Linked DNA regions of Homo sapiens. The protein of the gene in region 3 purifies or fractionates together with the protein of the main gene of each other region. This does not show direct contact. Each region holds a gene or a part of one and is shown on either strand. Other genes may lie near its edges.

The links. The genes of interacting proteins can lie anywhere in the genome.
Region 1: the proteins of ANXA11 (region 3) and TPD52 fractionate together in Homo sapiens (co-fractionation; one large-scale study listed by BioGRID). This does not show direct contact.
Region 2: the proteins of ANXA11 (region 3) and CISD1 fractionate together in Homo sapiens (co-fractionation; one large-scale study listed by BioGRID). This does not show direct contact.
Region 4: the proteins of ANXA11 (region 3) and TPD52L2 fractionate together in Homo sapiens (co-fractionation; one large-scale study listed by BioGRID). This does not show direct contact.

What each region holds. Positions count from the first base shown.
Region 1 is NC_000008.11:80,052,136-80,056,685, forward strand, and holds part of TPD52 (tumor protein D52), read right to left. Parts: intron 1,296-4,550; coding exon 1,147-1,295; intron 541-1,146; exon of another isoform or gene 471-540; intron 1-470. Other genes in the region: TPD52-MRPS28 protein, read right to left, coding at 1,147-1,295.
Region 2 is NC_000010.11:58,267,772-58,272,890, forward strand, and holds the start of CISD1 (CDGSH iron-sulfur domain-containing protein 1), read left to right. Parts: upstream 1-1,390; 5' UTR 1,391-1,502; coding exon 1,503-1,533; intron 1,534-5,119.
Region 3 is NC_000010.11:80,198,292-80,203,523, reverse strand, and holds part of ANXA11 (annexin A11), read left to right. Parts: intron 1-2,130; exon of another isoform or gene 2,131-2,265; intron 2,266-5,232. UniProt on the Homo sapiens protein: Binds specifically to calcyclin in a calcium-dependent manner. Required for midbody formation and completion of the terminal phase of cytokinesis.
Region 4 is NC_000020.11:63,885,649-63,890,198, forward strand, and holds part of TPD52L2 (tumor protein D54), read left to right. Parts: intron 1-367; coding exon of another isoform or gene 368-394; intron 395-1,915; coding exon of another isoform or gene 1,916-1,957; intron 1,958-3,541; coding exon 3,542-3,590; intron 3,591-4,201; coding exon 4,202-4,297; coding exon of another isoform or gene 4,298-4,394; 3' UTR 4,395-4,550.

The DNA.
Region 1 (4,550 bases), on a different chromosome or scaffold from region 3:
TTTGCATGTCTTTAGAGAGCTACCAAATACGGACATGATGGACTTTCAACAAAGTATGTAAAATATGCAATGCTTAAAATTATTCTAGTGTGGTATCTGCTATCACGCAAAGCTATAATTTACCACCTCCTTCCCAGCTACCTGGAGATTAGAGAAGAGAAAAGCAAAAACAAAAAAATGATGACAACAACAACAACAAAAAACAAAATAATATCGTACCTACCAAAACAATTCCCACATTATGGGAAAGAATGCTCAGGCATTTTTACTTACCCTGTCAAGATCAAATACCAATAAAAAAACATGGTTCATGGTAATACTGTTGAAAAAATAGTTTCCTGTATGTTTTCCCACTGCCAACTTAGATGGGTAGAAAATGGACCAAAAGACTGGGGACTCAAGTACTGTCATGTTAAATGCAGTTGGCCTCACTTCTGATAGTTAAATTGTAAAACAACTTCTGTGCTCACCAGCTCTGCAGATGGCTCTCAATACAGAAGACAGAGCAGTTCGGTTTCTGCTGCTAGAAGCTTGCTCCTCCTTGTGCCGGGAAACAAAACTGCATTATGATAATGCTATATCATAGCATGTGTGGTCAAAAAGACAAAAAGCCTAAGGGATTGACCTCTGCCAAGAGCATATATCTGAGACTACGACCTGAGAATCTTTTGATACCTACACAACAAGGTTAAAAAAATACATTAATAATAATAATAAAGACTGGCTCCAGACCTGAGTTTGAATTCCCACTCCACATTTTGAGAGGTTTGTGACATGAAAACTTAATTTGTCTGAGCCTGTTTCCTTATCCAGGGTTATCTTGCCACCCATTCTTACTGGGTTATTCTGAGTACTAAAGGACAAAATGTACATATTTGTGGCAAGTCAATACATAACACTTATGGGATTTGAATTTTATTTCTCCAACTGGCTAGCTTTCTTTCTATTCCTTAGAATAAGTGGTCTGGAAAAATTGAAGTTACAAAAAAAGGCAGGCACACTTGAAAATCAGAAAAAAAGGGTGCCGTGTCGTCCAAAGAAAAGCTGCTGAAGCATCCTTATCCTCTTTTTCTTCCCCTCTCCAGACAAAAGGCACAACAGTGTCCTTTACACTCCCAAGGAAAGTGTATGATCAAGGAAACATACGCAGATGTTGCTGTCACGTCTTGCCACCCTTTGGCAATGTTCTGTTTTAGTTCCTGTAGAGAATTGATTCCAAGTTTCCGCTTGATCTCTGCTAGATGCTTCTCTTTTGCTGCTAACACTTGAGACAGAGTCTGGATTTCTTCTTCTACCTATGAGGAAGGGGTTTGGGGTAAGAATATAGCAAAAGTCATTCAGTAAGTTAAGATTATTACCACAGAACTACATCCAAAATTCCAGTCATTAAACATTTTTTTGAATCATTTATCTTTCTCTCTAAAAACAATGTATAATGTTGTTGAGTAAACTGGTTACTTGCTGATCTCTCCTGTAGAGTTCTCTTTCCTCCTCCATGGGAGCTCTTTATAATCCCATCTTAAGCTGTTTTTGGCCTTCTCCTCTCTCCCTATACTTCCTTACTCAGCTATCTCATGTAGGTTTAGGACTCAAATTTCTACACAGATAATACTTAATAAAGCACTCTAACATCCACTCTCCCGACCTGTGGGTCTGCCTTCCCAGCCTAGACATTTCTATCTGAATGCCTACAAAACTTGTATTTGTATACTAAATCAAAATAATCTCCATCCCCTACCAAAACACACACAACCAAGCCAAACCCAAATCCAATCTCCTTGCATATTTGATATGAGTATATATACTGGATACATATACTCAGTCCCTGTGTCTGGCAAAGTCATGGCCATAATAAATCAAACCGCCTCCTCAGGAGATCCCTGCTCTCAAGGGTTTCATGTGAACCCCTTGATGCTGACTGCCCAGACTTGACTAGGTGGTTAGAGGTGGGCCCTGACCCATGGACAGCCACCCATCAAGAGCCAGTGGATGAGCCCAGTGTGAAAAGAGGTGCTCAACTATTCGTCTCTCTCACTCAGGAATCTAGTTTGAGAAGTGAGATGACATTGCAAGTAGAAGCTGAAAAAACTTGAAGAAGCCTTGAGGTATAGGTAGGCTACAGTGAGATTATGAGAGGTATGGAAAGCTTAAATATGCTTGAGGAATCTAAAACTGTAAGCAGAAGCTATGAAGAAAAGGAAAAAATGGACAGAGTAGAACAAAAGGCTAATCCAGGAAAACAGGGAAAATGGTAGACTCTCTATTTCAGAAACAGGGAAAAGGGTGGACTGCCTATTTCAGAGAGAAATAGACACCATGTGGAAGAGACTTTAGGTCCCAGGAAATTGAAAATCTAGGTCCCTAAAGTATATCCATTAACATTCAAGACCCTCAGAGAAATGCGTCTCCTGGCTTGTTGCAAAGCCATATTTTCAGCCCCAACCTGCACGGTATTTCTATGATTTCAAAGACAACATGCCCTTTAAAAATAACATAGAGTATTGCTCAGTCAAATGTTTTCACAGATGTTTAAGTCTTTAGAGAACACAAAACAAAGAAAATTAGTGCAACGGAGAAAAGGATAAATCAAATGTGATGCAGCTGCCAAGAAAAAAAAAAAAAGAAGAAAAAGAACCTACAACACCACTCTCAGATAAGATTAACTGGAACAGAGGTCCCTCAGAACAAATAAATAATCCCCTGTGCTTGTCAGAGTCACAAGTACTGGACCCAGTTTTGTAAGTCACATTTTAAGATGTACATTGACGAAGTGGAATACGAGAAGAAAAGGACAAAAAAAGAGGAAAGAATAAGGTTCAAAATTAAGTAAATTAAATGATTTGCCCAAAGTCATCAAACAAATAATGTAGGAACCAGAATTCCTATCTAGGTTTTCTGAATGCACGTCTCAGTTTACTGGCTGAATTCTCATGTACACTCTCTTAAGCTTCCCACTTCCTCTGTCTCTACTTCAGGCTCCAAAGCTTCAGACACTTCTAAGAATAGACTTAAATGGTAAGTTTCCCACCCCTTAGCACTTCTCTGAGGTACTCACTTCCTCTAATGAAAGCTGCAAAGACAAACCACTCTAAATCTTTCTGAACAATGCACAACACAGTATATTCCCCACCTTTGTTGGTTAGCTTGTGCTGCTAACACACCTAGCCCAGCACATCATGGCTGCGATTCCTTAATTCAATATATACATGTAAAACAGAGTGACTTTAAAAGCATAAAGAGCATGATTAAGAATCTCTGATGTGTCTATCACTATATACAAAGATCAACTCAAAATGGACTAAGGACCCAAAACCATAAAACTACTAGAAGAAAACATAGGAGAAACACTTCAGGGCATTGGTCTAGACAAAGATTTTATGGCTAAGACCTCAGAAACACAGGCAACAAAAACAAAAATAGACAAATGGGACTAAATTCAAGGAAATCATCAACAGAGTGAAGAGATAACCTGTAGAATGGGAGAGAACATTTGCAAACTATTCATCTGACAAGGGACTAATATCCAAAATATACAAGGAACTCAATTCAACAACAAAACAAACAAGCAATCCCATTTAAAAAGTGGGCAAAGGATCTAAATAGACATTTCTCAGAAGAGACATATAAATGGCCAACAAATATATTAAAAATGCTCAACATCACTAATCATCAGGGAAATGCAAATCAAAATCAAAATGAGGTATCACCTCACACCTGTTATTATGCCTGTTATCAAAAAACCAAAAAATAACAGATGCTGGCAAGGATCCAGAGAAGATGAAACTCTTATACACTGTTGCTGGGAATATAAATTAGTACAGCCACTATGAAAAACAGTATGGAGGTTTCTCAGAAAAACTTAAAATAGAAATACCACATAATCCAGCAATCCCACTACTGGGTTACTTATCCAAAGGAAAGGAAATCAGTGTATCAAAGGGTACCTACACCCCCACGTTTATTGCAGCACTATTTACAATACCCAAGTGTCCATCAACAGGTGAATGGATAAAGAAAATGTGGTATACACAATGGAATACAATTCTGCCATAAAAAAGAATGAAATCCTGTAATTTGCAGCAACATGGATGAGCCTAGAGAACAATACGTTAAGCAGAATAAATCAGGCACAGAAAGATAAATACTGCATGTTCTTACTCACATGTGGACGCCAAGAAAAAACTCTGAACCCATCTAAGTAGAGAGTAAAATTGTGGGTGTTAGAGGTTGGGAAAGGGAGGATGCCTACAGGTTGTGCTTCAAACGACACTGTCATGAAAGTAAAAGACAACCAACAGAATGGGGAAAATATTGGCAAATTACATACCTAATAAGAGTCTAGTATCTAGAACATATAAAGAAACTTACAACTCAATAAAAAGACAATCCAATTAGAAAATGGGCAAAGGACTTAAATAGACATTTCTCCCAAGATATACAAATGACCAATAAGCACATGAAAAGATGCTTAACACCATTCATTAGTAATTTGAGAAATGCAAATCAAAACCACAAGGAGATACCACTTCATACCCATTAGGATGGTTACA
Region 2 (5,119 bases), about 22 Mb from region 3:
CCGCCGGGGCGCGGGCGCTCCTCTGCCCAACTCTCGGCGGAACGCGGCTCCCGGCTCCTGTTCCTCTGCCGCCGCAGCCGCCGGCCCCGGCGCTGCCCGGTAGACAGAACCGAGCCGAAGAACAGCAGCAGCGGCGCCCCGCGCTCCCTGGGGCCCTGACGGCGACGGCGGNCCCACCTCCTGCGCCCCCGCCCCCTCCCGCCGTCCTCCAGTCCCCTCAGCTGCCGCGCGCGCGTCACCGCCGCCCGCACCGCCGCTGCCGCCGCTACTGAGCATGCCCAGAGGCCGTCCAACGGGATTCCGGCCCCCCAAGTCAGCGGGGCGGGCGCGCCGTGCTGCCAGGACCTGGCGACGGCGACAGGGATAGGGCGAGCGCACCCCTGTTTCTTCTCACCCCCACCCCGCGGGCATTTCGAAGTCACGCGTGCTGCTGTGGCCTCATTCATTCAACACGCTTCTCAGCGCGTCAGCTCAGAGAAGCCAGGGACTTCTAAGTGTGCGGAGCAGTCCGGCAAGAATTGGAAGGCACTAGCATTGCCAAGGGTGGCTCTAAAGGCCACCCCTAACTGCACTCAACTCCCTCCAACTCCCACCCCGCACGAAAACAACAGAAGTAAAAGCAGGCAGCTTATTAGAGATGCGCCTTCAAAATACCCTTCGAGTTAATCTCAGCCCCCCTCCCCGGATTGCTGTCTCTAAACCGCTCTTACCAAAAAGTAAAACACATAAAAATAAAATAAAATTGGAACCGACACGAATTTCAGACTGTAGAAGACAGAGAAAACTTCTAATTTTTTTAAGTGAACATGTTTTTTAAAGAAAGGAGCAAGTTTTTTCTCTCCCACTCGACCTTTAAGATAGTGCAGGTTCCAAGGTCCTGAGTAGATAATTATATCAAAAGCAGAAAGGGATGGACACCGGTAGCTACGCGAGGTTCTGGAATGGGACTCAGTCATTGATTCCTGTATGTCCGCCGCTGGCATGTTATATAAAAGCTGGACCTGGCCTTGAAGGTAAATCGTCACAAGCCCCGAGCAAGAAAAACTGGGGTCAAATCTTAGGTATCTGATTAAAGTAAGTGTCCTATTAACACCTGTTTCTGCCCCCAGAAGCCCACACACCTGGAAGAGACGTAAAATCTGGCCTGGATTCCCTAATCCCAGGGCCCTGCCCCTCGGCTTCAGGGCCCCGCCCCTCGGCTTCAGGGCCCCGCCCCTCGGCGTTGCGCAAACTCTGTTGCTACCTAAGTCTTTTCCTCCTCCCACCTCCCGTAGCTGTCAAAATCCGGAGTCCAGACTTCCTTATGGCCAGGACAGCTCCACGCATGCTCAGCACCTACCAGGGTCGAGCTCACACACGTGCCTACGACCCGCCGCGGCGCCTGCGCGGTAGCATCGCGGAGTCGGTGCTTTAGTACGCCGCTGGCACCTTTACTCTCGCCGGCCGCGCGAACCCGTTTGAGCTCGGTATCCTAGTGCACACGCCTTGCAAGCGACGGCGCCATGAGTCTGACTTCCAGTTCCAGCGTACGAGGTGAAGTGGGGCCTGGGAGCGGGTGAGGCTGGTGAGGCTCAGCGGTTGCCGCGCCCGCAGTTCGACTGGGTTGTTTTACCACTGCCCTACGCGCCCGCCGGTCCTATAACCTTGAGATGCAGAAGGGCAAGCGCTCGGCCCGGCTGCGGGCTCCGGGCCGGACAGCGAAAGGGGGCGAGGTCAGGGATGGATTGATGGTTTGGGGCCATGCCGGACCAGAGTCCACGTTTACCCCAGCTAGCCAAACCCTAACACCTAATGACCGCGCCGCTAGCTTTTCTTGTTCACCCCTAAGACGCTTTCATGTCCTTAAGTCACATAGCCTGGAAAAGAAGGAAAGGTGGGAGAAAACAACAGCAAACCTGTTTGCCCTTCTCATGTTTCAGTCAGCGTCGGGCCACAACGTCGATTTCCTGCAATCCTGAAGCATTGCGTGACTAATCACATCTTAGTTTTGCAGATTTTTTTTTAAGGGATGAAACGCAATCCGAGGTTTTCAGTTTTCCCGGTTTTTTATTATTCCTCTGGCATCTGACACTCGGTGGCAGTAGTCCAGGATAAAGGATTGAAAACTGCGTTCGTTGAACCTTCAGCTTTCTGAGTCTTCTTTCCCCTGTGCTAGTACCTAGCGTTTGGAAACAGTATTTCGCAGAAAGTCCCGTTATAATAAAATTAAGAGACTTTATAAGCAGTCATTTAATGTGGAGTTTCACTTTATAACCATTCTTGGTGATGTTATAATTGTTAATATAATACTGTGTACCAGACACACAATATATGTGATCTTTGCCCCTCTATAAAACGCCACTTCGCAAGGTTTTGAGTAAAGGCAAAGAGACTGTCTAGAGGTTAATTAAAAATACGTTCAGTAAATATTGAACATCTGTAGTGCCAGGTAATAAAAAGTCCCTACTAACTTGAGCCCTAATTTTTTAATAGGTAGTTTCCAAAAATTGGAGAGTTCCACTTCTGTTGACAAAATTTACCTGGCTAAGGGTGATATTCCATGACATTTCGAAGTTACTAATGATATAGAGATTATTATTTGCAAAAATTATATTAAAGGATACTCATCTTGAGACTTTTTTTAATAGAGGCAGCTTGGTGCATTTAAAATAGGGTGTGATTTTTGTTTTTGTTTTTTAAAAAACTATATTCTCTTGGGATTAAGACTTGTGAAATGAGATGTTCATGTGACTTGTGCCGCTGATATTTTTAATTTTACAGGAAGACTGCACATGTTTGAGGTGGACCAAAAGATTCCACAGTGTGTGTTTAAAATACGGGATCATTTTGTGTACATGAACACTAAACTCTATTTAGGTTGCATATTATTGAAATGTGAAACGGGTGAACCCCTTAGGACTTACCGCTATCTGCAGGCTGGTCTGCAGGATTTCTTTTTTAGACAAGACAAGGTTTTTTGTTTTGTTTTGTTTTTCAAGTCTAACCATAGGGGAATTCAAAGGCAACTTTCCCAATCATTTTCCATTGCCTAAGGAATAGGAAATCACTGAAGCAGGTTATTGGCTTCAACTGGAAGTATTCAACTTTGTTAGGAGGAGTGATTATTTTTTGAGACAGAGTCTCACTCAGTGGCCCAAGCTGGAGTGCAGTGTTGTGATCATAGCTCACTGCAACCTTGAACTTCTGGGCCCAAGCCATCCTTTCTCCTTGGTCCCCTGGCTTCCCAAAGTGCTGAGATTACATATGTGAGACACCACACGTTGCCATGACTATTTTTTTTTTTTTTGAGGCGGAGTCTCGCTCTGTCGCCCAGGCTGGAGTGCAGTGGCGGGATCTCGGCTCACTGCAAGCTCCGCCTCCCGGGTTCATGCCATTCTCCTGCCTCAGCCTCCCAAGTAGCTGGGACTACAGGCGCCCGCCACTACGCCCGGCTAATTTTTTGTATTTTTAGTAGAGACGGGGTTTCACCGTTTTAGCCGGGATGGCTCTCGATCTCCTGACCTCGTGATTCGCCCGCCTCGGCCTCCCAAAGTGCTGGGATTACAGGCGTGAGCCACCGCGCCCGGCCGACTATTTTTTATTTCACCAAAAAGCATGCAAGTTGTCATGAGGACTGTAGGGAGAGGCCCAAAGCCTTTGTAAATCTCTTCTACCAACATTTTCCTCCTCAATATAGTAGTAGGTAGGCAAGGTAGGGAAAGAGAATGTCGAGGGGATTTAACTTTTAATGTTTAGATCACACACAAGTTTGGTTCTCTTCTCAAACTTTAAACCAAGTTTATTCCTACAGATTGAAAATCAATTTAGATCTTTTAATTGGGGGAAAGATATCATGTCTCTTCTCAATTAAATGAATTTGTAATTATAAAGGGTTTAGAATGATATGTGACAGTGGTAAGCACTATATAAATATATGTTAAATATAAAGTGTGTACGTGTATGCAGAACTCTTGTTCATCATCAGAAGAAAAATAAAAGGTAGTTTATAAAAAAAAATTTAACGGGAATCAGGCCAGGACTGGAATCAGGCAGAGGCAGTGAGAATGAATGATTGGAACTGAAATACTCTTAAGATCCTGATCATTGAGATAGCTCTTGATACCAGTATGGTCGATAAGACCATTAGTTTATTATATTTTCTAGTACTAAGTGGCCTTCACTGCCTACTCGTCCAGTCTCTTATGATTCCTCCTCATATCCAAATAGATGACCTTTCTGAACATCATCCTGCTCCTTGATAACTCTAGCACTCATTGATCACTCTCACCCTTAACCCTTTCTCTTCTATTTGCAAGGAAGATGTTAACTCTTAGGCTGTTCTCTCTCCATGTCCTCCAGATGCCGTTTTCTTTTGCTTAAATCTTTGCCTCAGTGATATCTGTTGTTCGTAAATATTTAGTGCCTCATAAAGATTTTCTTCAGCCTTAAGTCACTCATAATTCACCCTCATCTTTAAAAAAAAAAAAAAGCCAACTATACCAGGTAATTTTGAAAGGCATCCCTTAACCTGCCTTCCCCTGAAATCACTTTTTTTTTTTTACTTTACCCTCAAGTTGCAACATAGGGATTTGTCTGTTCATCTTGTACTTCATTATCTATCCCAAACCCTGATCACTACAACGCTTGTAACCAAAATTACATTTCATAAATTCTTATTCTCTTTCATATTCTTGTGTATTTTATTGAAACTAATTTTCTAATTCATTTAACCACAACATAGGAAAATATTGTTTTGGTTCACTAAATTCACCAAGTCATTTAAAGTCATTATTTAAGGGTTTTTGTCTGAAAAGAAAGGTATGGATCATACTGAAAATAAAAGGGATAGCTCCTATAAGTTATAAACAATAAATGAAAAATAAGAGGGCTGGGTGCGGTGGCTCACGCCTGTAATCTCAGCACTTTGGGAGGCCAAGGCGGGCAGATCATGAGGTCAGGAGTTCGAGACCAGCTTGGACAACATGGTGAAACCCCCGTCTCTACTAAAAATACAAAAAATTAGCCAGGCATGGTGGCACGCATCTGTAGTCCCAGCTACTTGGGAGGCTGAGGCACGAGAATTGCTTGAACCCAGGAGGCAGAGGTTGCGGTGAGCTGAGATTGCACCACTGCACTCCAG
Region 3 (5,232 bases):
TGAACAACAGAGACAGCACAGGGAAGTGGTTTCCCTGTGGTTAAAATATAGGACCTTGAAGGCTGGGTTTGGATAGAGAAACGTGGGGAGGGTGAGATGGAGATGAATTGGGACTAAGAGGTGGGAGTGGAAGCCTCACCTGACGCCTTTATGCATGATACTATAGAAAGGGCCCACCCTGGGTGGATGTGTCTAGAAGGCCAGGATCGATTAGTGATGCCTAGTTCACGTGATTGGGGAGGTGATGTGTGGCTTGGGATGACAGGAGTGGGAGTTGAGACAGAATAGGTTAGTGTGGGTTCTTCTTGGAAATTGTAGAATAGAGAAAAGAAACTGGTGTGGGCAGGAGCTGAATGTGGAACCAAAATGCATGCTGAATGCTGGAACATCAGAGGTCCTGGGACCTTTCTGGTGCACCCCCTCCTTCCTCCTGGATTCACCCCTCTTCTTCTGCTGTCTTTTTTTTTTTTTTTTTTTTTGAGACAGATTTCGCCCTGTCACCCAGGCTGGAGTGCAGTGATGCAATCTTGGCTCACTGCAACCTCCGCTCCCTGGGTTTAAATGATTCTCCTCCCTTGGCCTCCCGAGTAGCTGGGATTACAGGCATGCACCACCATGCCCGGCTAATTTTTGTATTTTTAGTAGAGACGGGGCTTCACCATGTTGGCCAGGCTGGTCTTGAACTCCTGACCTCAGGTGATCTGCCTGCCTCAGTCTCCCAAAGTGCTGGGATTACAGGCATGAGTCACCGTGCCCGGCCTCCTCTCTCTTCTTAGCCACTGTTTTCCCCCGTAAGCCTGAAGCAGTTCCTGGCACTTGTTCCCATGGGGAAGCGTCTGTGTAAGGGTATGCTTCACCAGCACTGCCAAGGAAGTAGACTTTTCACTTTCTCTGGATTTTTCTCTGCAACACCCTCTGATCCCATTGCCCCCAGAATAGTAGGAATTTTGAGTGATACCTAGATAGGAAAGCTCTTAGGATTAATGAAGAAACTGAGATTTTCTTGGTGGGAGTTTGTGCTTTTAAAGGGAGTTGTTGCAATTCAATGGAACTCTGTAATAACCACTGAAACTGTTACACATTAGGCTTACTGACCCTATCTCCTATAACCCATGAAATAAAGACCTGATAGTCACATAGTTGTTTGCTATTTGGGAGGATCCTAAAAGTACAGCCTGAACAGTGACCCAAACCACAGCTGGCCTTGCCCATGCTGATGTGAGGAAGGAATGGGTGGGGGCAACTAAGAAATTGGGGGACAGAGTTCTCTGTGCTAGGTATCCTAGGACAAGCCACCCAGCCACACAGAGACCCCCCGCTTCCCCCCCACAGAACAGTTCTGGATGATAAAATGCCTGCCTGGAATGGAGAATCAGATGAGAAGATGTTTGCAAAGGGGTTTGAGATCAGTTAGCGGGTGGTGATGACAATGTTGATACCGTGGGTGTGTGACTGCCAGGAGCTGTGAAGCAGAGGGTGGAGTGTGCGGTGGTCAAAGCCTGGTTCTGGGATCTCTAGCTTTCCAGGGGCTTAGGCTCCGCCTTAGCAGAAAAGAAGGAAAGGAAATTGAGAAGGAAGTCAGGTGTCCCCTGCCCCTCACACTTGGGGATGGCTGACTTGGAGGACATGAGATGGGGGAAATCTGAGTGAGGGCAGAGAAGAGAAATGTGGAGGCTGCTCACAGGGAGGCTAGGGAGCATATGGCATATCCAGCCTGGGGAGTGGCACCACTGGGGGAAAGGGTGCGTGTGACAGTGGGGAAGGAGTGGTGATAACAGATGTGAGCTTGCTGTGTCCACTAAAAAGGTCACGGCTATTTTTAGGAAGTAGGTGACAAGGCATGTTCCTGTAGAACTGCTTATTACTGAGAACCCACTGTTGGCCTCGCCCTGCGTGGTGTGCTTAAAAGGAGAGACCGCCCCCACTCACCCTAGAGTCATCCACCTGGTGTCCCTGAGACATGGGACACTGGATGAGGACCAGGTTTGGAGGATGAAGAAGATCATGTATTTGGTTTTGGACATGTTGTGTTTGAGGTGTCTTTGAGATACCAAATAAGCTGGTGGGTCTGGGGCTCAGGAGGCGTCTTGGCTAGACAGACATTTGTCTAGGTTGTGTTTGTATTTGAAGTCATGGGCACAGCGAGATTGAAGAACTCACCTCGAACAGCTGAGTAAAGGAAGATGAGCCTATAAAGGACCCAGAAAAAGAGCGACCTGAGAGGGGCCCAGAAAGCCAGGACAGAGTTGTATCCCAGGGGCCAGGGTGAGTCTGCTTCGTGGGATGGAGTGGTCAGCTTGGCATCGCGGCTGTGGTGAGTGATATGGAGGAGATGTGGCTGCCTTCACTGCTTTGGTGGGATGATGTGAGCAGAAGCGAGGTTGGAGTGAATGGGTGAGGAGTAGCAGGACGTGAGGATCTGATGATAGACAGGCTCTGAAATGTTGGCTTTGAAGGCGAAGAGGACGTCGTTGAGGGAGTGTTTGATTCTGTTGCCTCGATTTACCCTCCTGCTCCCTTTCCAATCCCAGAAGGGAACATGTGGATGGCCTGCCACTGACATCCCTCCCCACGGCGCTCCGTGCTCAGGCAGACCTAGGTACCTGCAAGGGTTTGCTTCTTTCACAAAGTGGATTCATTCTCATGAATGAATGAATGAGTGAATGAAGCATGTTGCCCAGGTTGGTCTCAAAGCCCTGGCCTCAAGCAATCCCCCCGCCCCGCCTCAGCCTCCCAAAGTGCTGGGATTACAGGAGTGAACCACTGCACCTGGCTGGTATTAAATTTTCTTTGTGGCCAACTGCATGATAAATATTAACATGTTTCATGGGCGTGAAAGGAGAAAATAGGTCCTCTGCGGGACGCTGACTTTAGATAGATCTCTTAACTTCAGTTACCCTTATATCCCTGCTTGCCTGGCTGTCAGATTCTGAGAGGTATAACAAAAACTCTCACTGTAGTTTTTTAAAGTCCAGCTCTACTTATATTTGTGGGAGTTCTAGCCTTTTGAGTTTGGCTTTCGTGTTTCATGTATATAGGCTTATCAAGCTGATCTTCCTACCTGTCATTTGCTGGTTATTTAATGCCTTTGGTCTTTGGTCTTAAATTCCATATTGTCTGTGTTTTAGGAGAATACATGGCCAAGGATCTGGGAGAATCTCTTTTCTTTACAGTCTTAAAATTAATAAATAAGTGCATTTTATAAGATAATAAGTGAAAGGCTCAGAAATTTAAATGCAGGCATCAGAGGACATTCAAGCCATGCCCCTTTAGCTTCTGTTCAGGCTCACATGGAGCGGTTAGTAATCAGGTCTCACTGATGACCATGAGCTCCCTGTCCTTGGCTGTCCTAATGGTTCCCATGATAGCCAGATTTTTAGGAGGGGTGGATAAAATGAGATTTGCGTGCAAACTCCTGGGACGTTGCCTGGGAACCTCTTCTCTCACTTTGCAATTCCTGCCCCTTCCTGTAGGTCCAAGAAGCGGACTGCTCTGCCTCTCATTTACGCATTTCCTTCCTCATTCCAGACAGCAAGATGAGTTTTTGACAGAGTAGCCAGTACAAACACTTCTCAGGGCCAGAAGTCAGAAAGACGCGGGCCCCAAGTCATAAGCTCATCTCTGTGCTTGTGTTTTAAGCCACATAAACTGTCTCAGCGGGCTGGACTAGGCTATGCCTTGTTGTACCCTGAGATCCTAGTGAGTAGTTCTCCAAGTACTGTGTTTACAGATAAAGGCAAATGCCAGAGAGAAATGGCTGGAAAAACCCCTTGGCTTGCTAAGGCAGGATTATCGAAAAGTCTTCAACATATATGTTTTTAAATTTTACATATTTTTTCATTTTTATTTATTTTGAGACCAGACTAATTTTTGTATTTTTGGTAGAGATGGGGTTTTGCCATGTTGCCCAGGCTGGTCTCAAACTCCTGGGCTCAAGTAATCTGCCCACCTCAGCTTCCCAAAGTGCTGGGATTACGGACATGAGCCACTGCACCCAGCCAACCACTGTGCCCAGCCTATTTTTACTATTAATATTTCCACCTCTGTTTTTCTTTGCATTTATTTGGTATGTCTTTGCCCAACCCTTAGTTTTAAATATTTCTTTCTCACTTAAAAAAGTTTATCTTGGCTGGGCGCGGTAGCTCACGCCTGTAATCCCAGCACTTTAGGAGGCCGAGGCGGGCAGATCACGAGGTCAGGAGATAGAGACCATCCTGGCTAACACGGTGAAATCCCGCCTCTACTAAAAATATAAAAAATTATCCAGGCGTGGTAGCGGGCGCCTATAGTCCCAGCTACTCGGGAGGCTGAGGCAGGAGAATGGCATGAACCCGGGAGGCGGAGCTTGCAGTGGAGCCGAGATCGTGCCACTGCACTCCAGCCTGGACGACAGATCAAGACTTGGTCTCAAAAAAAAAAAAAAAAAAAGTTTATCTTGAAGATGGAATCTTCGTAAATAAAATTTGTTTCTCTTATAATCAGAACGTGGTTGAGGGTGGATGGAGGTTGACAGAAGGCAATGATAACAGCAACAAACCTAATTGCATGGTTTCTGTCTTTGGTAGAGGAATTCTGACTGTTGACATACCAGATATACTTGATTTTATTCTTTGCATCTTGCTTATTACTTATTATACTTGCATGCATTCCTTTCCTGATTTTTGCTGTTGGGTTAAGTTTCTCATCGTCATCTTCCCCACGCCACCTGTATTACGTTTCAGGTTTGGTTGTGAATGAAGAGAGGAGCCCCGTCTCTCTCTCTCTCTCTCTCTCACTCACTCTCTCACTCTTTCTTGAAAAATCAGGGTCGAGGTTAAGTGTGTGTTCCATGAGATTGTCTTGGCACCAGGCTCCTTATGGACTGTTGTCCCTAGCATTCTCAAGGGCTGTGGTTTTCAAACTTGAGCATGTATAAGAACAATCTGGAAGGCTTGTTAAAGCATAGATTCTTGGACTGCACCCTGAATCATTCTAATTTAGGAGGTCTGTGATGGGACCTGAGCACGTTAATTGCTTACAGGCTCCCATATTGTATAATGCCGCCGGGCCACATGTTGGGTAGCACCGTCTAGGTGCCTCCCTTAACTGCATGGCCCAAGACAGCTCACTTTCACATCCCCATGGCAGGCCCTCCTAGCTGCTAGGGGTCTGGAAAGCAGTCCTTAGTGGGGGCTGCTGTGTGCCAGGCTATGGTGTGTTCTGTTACTAAAGCAAGAGAGAACAGATGGTTGA
Region 4 (4,550 bases), on a different chromosome or scaffold from region 3:
CTGCTGGATGGGGCTGGTTGTGCTCCAGGTGCTGTGGCTTCTCCAAACAGGTGTGCCTTGGGGCATAAGGCGTGGACAGGGCGTGGACCCAGGGGCCTCTTGGGCACAGCCGTGAGGCTGAGCAGTTGCTAGTCATGATCTTGCGAGAGCCTCCTGTTGAGTCAGGACTTGAGGAGACTGGAGACAGTGCTGCTGTCCCCGGTGGTGTGCGGACTGGAGGAGCCGTCCTGGAGGGTCTTCCCCTGCTGGGCCTGACTGAGCACGAGCAGGGGGCCTCCCCTGGGGCTCCCCGAGGAGGGCTGTGAGTGGGTGCTGGCCTCCCTTGCTTACACTTCGTTTCCTCTTCTCTCCTGCTGCCACCTTCCAGGGCTCATCCATTTTCACACTCCTTTAGGTAAGGCTGAGCCTGGACACACCTGTGGAAGACTTTTCTCTGAATTGGGGCAGGGTGGACTCCGGCAGGGCCCTTGGGCGGCTGTGCTAGTAGAGGGCAGTGAAAGTGGGATCACCCCTTCCAGGACAGCAGTGCCAGCCAGGTGGTTGCTGCATCTCAGGGAACAAAGCAGCAGCGTGGGATCGACGCAGAGGCCCCCCGGAACCCCCCGGCCCTTCTGTGTCCCCTCCTCGTGCTTCCCTTCAGGCTCACAGACCGCCTGCTGCCGGGTCTGTGAATAACTGGCCTGGCGTCCAGGCCTGAGTTTACTCCTGAAAAGGAGCTTTTTTTTTTTTTTAGACGGAGTCTTGCTCTGTCGCCCAGGTTGGAGTGCCGTGGCGCGATCTCGGCTCACTGCAAGCTCCGCCTCCCGGGTTCACGCCATTCTCCTGCCTCAGCCTCTCCGAGTAGCTGGGACTACAGGCGCCCGCCGCCACGCCCGGCTAATTTTTTGTATTTTTAGTAGAGACGGGGTTTCACCGTGGTCTCGATCTCCCGACCTCGTGATCCGCCCGCCTCGGCCTCCCAAAGTGCTGGGATTACAAGCGTGAGCCACCGCGCCCGGCCTTTTTTTTCTTTTTTTTGTTGGAGTCTCGCTCTATCACCAGGCTGGAGCACAGTGGTGTGATCTCGGCTCACTGCAACCTCCAGCTCCCTGGTTCAAGCGGTTCTCCTGCCTCAGGCTCCTGAGTAGCTGGGATTACAGGCATGAGCCACCACGCCTGGCTAATTTTTGTATTTTTAGTAGAGACGGGGTTTCACCATGTTGGCCAGCATGGTCTCGATCTCCTGACCTCGTGATCCACCCGCCTTGGCCTCCCAAAGTGCTGGGATTACAGGCGTGAGCCACTGCGCCGGGCCCTCAAAGGAGCCTTTTCACGTGGGAGGGCTGTGCCGACTCTCACCACCTTCCTGTTCAACATCTGTCCTGTTTCCTTGTTTTCCTTCAGATGGAGTTTTGTCTTGTTTACTACCCGAGAGCCCATAGGTGTGCCTCCCAAAGGGCCCTCCTGCAGACCAGAGCAAGCTCCTCTAGGCCAAGCCGGGGCGCCGCCAGCACGTGCCCTTCTGCTGGAACCGGGAGGTCTAGAGCCAGGCCCAGAACAATCTGTGATTTCTTGTGTTTTTACTTGACTTGGTGGTTTCTCTTTTGCCAAAAGGTCCTTACTTGACTTCTGAAGGCTGTTTGTACCAAATACTTTTCAAAAGCCCAAGCCTGGTCTCCTCACAGCTTCCTATGGCAGTGCTCTCCCCCCTCCCAGTGCTATGCGCTGGGCAACTTGGGGTGCCCCCCATGAGGCCAAGGGAGGACCCTGGGGTCGAGTTTCCTTCGGGGGCATTGTGTGGAGGGGCAGGCAGCTCGCTCCAACTGCTGGGAGTGGGGGAATCCCAGCTCTGCCCATCCCTGCCAAGTTGGGGTTGTGTGTGGATCTTGGTGTTAACTCTTGCTTCCTTCTCTGCTTCTGCCATGCTTCCAAGCAGCAGCTACTCCATCCGCCACTCAATAAGTATGCCAGCCATGAGGTAATGTATGCCTGCTCGCTGCGGCTCCAGAGCCGGGTGTCTCTGGTGGGGGTTGGGGCAGCTCCCGCCGGTTACACCTTGCCCTTCCCATATTCCTGGATTAATTGAGGACTCCATTCCCTTGGCAACCTCTGATGACTAAGGGCCGGTAAAAACCCCCTCTAGGCTGACGAGGAAGAGCTGGTAGGGGGTCAGGCTCTTCACCTGCAGCCTCCAGAGGAGATCCTTGTGTCAAACTGGGCCGTGTCCTTTCCAAGTCCTGACCCTGGCTGCCTGCAGTGGGTGGGGTGGGGTTCGAGGGGCTCGCACACAGATCCTGGCACTTGCCCTGGTGGGCTGTCACTCAGGACACTTCACGGTCTCAGCCTTCACGGAAACACCCAGAGCTGTGGTCCTTATTCTGTGCCTGTCAGGCACCACCCTGATTCTCAGGATTCTGTGCCTGTGCCGTGAGGCACTGCCCTGATTCTCAGGAGAGCCCAGAACTGTGGTCCCTATTCTGTGCCTGCGCCGTCAGGCACCGCCCTGATTCTCAGGAGAGCCCTGTTCTCCTTGTGGGGACTCTGGCTGGGTGTCGCAGACGTGCTGGCCTCTAGAGTCCCCGGGCCTGGGAGGGGTATCTGTTTGTGTGGGAGGGACTGAGTGGGATGGAGCTGGCCTGCTTTCTCCTCTTGTCTCCTTATCACTCTGCTGTCCCAGAAGTGTCCTTGGTCTTCCGTTTGCTTCTCTGAGAGATGTGCATGAAGAACTGCACAGACTTTTCATAACTTCAGTACGAGAGCCCAGGGTGTCCCTGTAGGGGACAGCAGAGAGGGGCCGACAGCCCCCCAACTGCGCAGACTTTTCATAACCTCAGTACGAGAGCCCAGGGTGTCCCTGTAGGGGATAGCAGAGAGGGGCCGACAGCCCCCCAACTGCACAGACTTTTCATAACCTCAATACGAGAGCCCGGGGTATCCCTGTAGGGGACAGCAGAGAGGGGCCGACAGCCCCCCAACTGCGCAGACTTTTCATAACCTCAGTACGAGAGCCCAGGGTGTCCCTGTAGGGGATAGCAGAGAGGGGCCGACAGCCCCCCAACTGCACAGACTTTTCATAACCTCAGTACGAGAGCCCGGGGTATCCCTGTAGGGGACAGCAGAGAGGGGCCGACAGCCCCCCAACTGCGCAGACTTTTCATAACCTCAGTACGAGAGCCCGGGGTGTCCCTGTAGGGGACAGCAGAGAGGGGCCGACAGCCCCCCAACTGCACAGACTTTTCATAACCTCAGTACGAGAGCCCGGGATGTCCCTGTAGGGTATGACAGAGAGGGGCCGACATCTCCCCAGCTGCACAGTCAAGGGGTTTCCAGTTGCCTTGTGTGACGTCTGGACCTGTCCCTGTGGTTGTTGGGCATGGCCGACCTCACTTTTGACCTGGGGAGTCTCCGGAATGACCTGGCTGTCTCACAGTTTTGCCATGAGATCTTGGGATGTTGTTAGGGACCCTTTGGAGGCTGGCCCTAACCCTGAGGCCCTTCCGAGTTAGGAGAGCAGCACAACCCTCTCCTCTTGACACCGACACTCTTCCCTCTCTCTTTAAAGGAACTCTGCGACCTTCAAGTCGTTTGAGGACCGAGTTGGGACCATAAAGGTAATTGTACCTGGACTGTTTGATGGTCTTGGCAAGGTGTGACCTGTTACAGCAACTTGTTTATTATTAGTCATTTAGTTATGGTAGACTCACATACAGTTGTGGGAAGTAATGCAGAGAGGTTCCTTGTGCCTTTTACACAGTTCTCTCCTGTGACGACATCTTGGAAAATCCTGTAGTGCAGCCTCCCCACCAGGACATTGGCACTGACTCAGGACACAGAACGCCTCCACACTGCCCTTCCTGGTCCCCACTGCCCTTCCTGGTCCCCACTGCCCTTCCTGGTACCTTCTTGGCCATGCTGACCTTCCTCCCGCCCTACCCCCGGCAACCCCTAGTCCACTCTCCCTTTGTATAATTGTGTCATTTCAAGAATGTCACGTAAATGGAACGATACAGTGTGCAGCTTTTTGGCATTCACTGTCTTCATTTGGCATCGTTCTCTGGAGACCTGTTGGGGCTGGTGCCCGTCCGTGATTTGCTCCCTGTCCCTGCTGAGCAGTGTTCGTGTTACATAAGCTTTTGTAGAGCATTGAGCATGGGCCTGGGATCTGCCTTGTGTTGTGTGCTCTGTCTCAGGTTTTTCTGTCTTCATCTTTTCTCTCCTGTAGTCTAAGGTTGTGGGTGACAGAGAGAACGGCAGTGACAACCTCCCTTCCTCAGCGGGGAGTGGTGACAAGCCCCTGTCGGATCCCGCACCTTTCTAAGCCTGTGGTTGCTTCACCCGCTGCAGAGCACACGCAACCCAGCCTCAGCATCACAGCCGCAGCTCTGTTCAGCGGAGCAGCCAGCCAGGGCGGATGAGCAGAGCCGGCCCTGAGGACAGTCCTGCCCATCCACGCGGAGATGTGGCTGCCGCGTTTGCATGAATTTGAAGAACACAGGCTTGTACACAGATGTTTTACACTCACGTTTGTAGATGAAACAGATCACTGTGCTGTCCTTCCTAGGGGTGCAGGA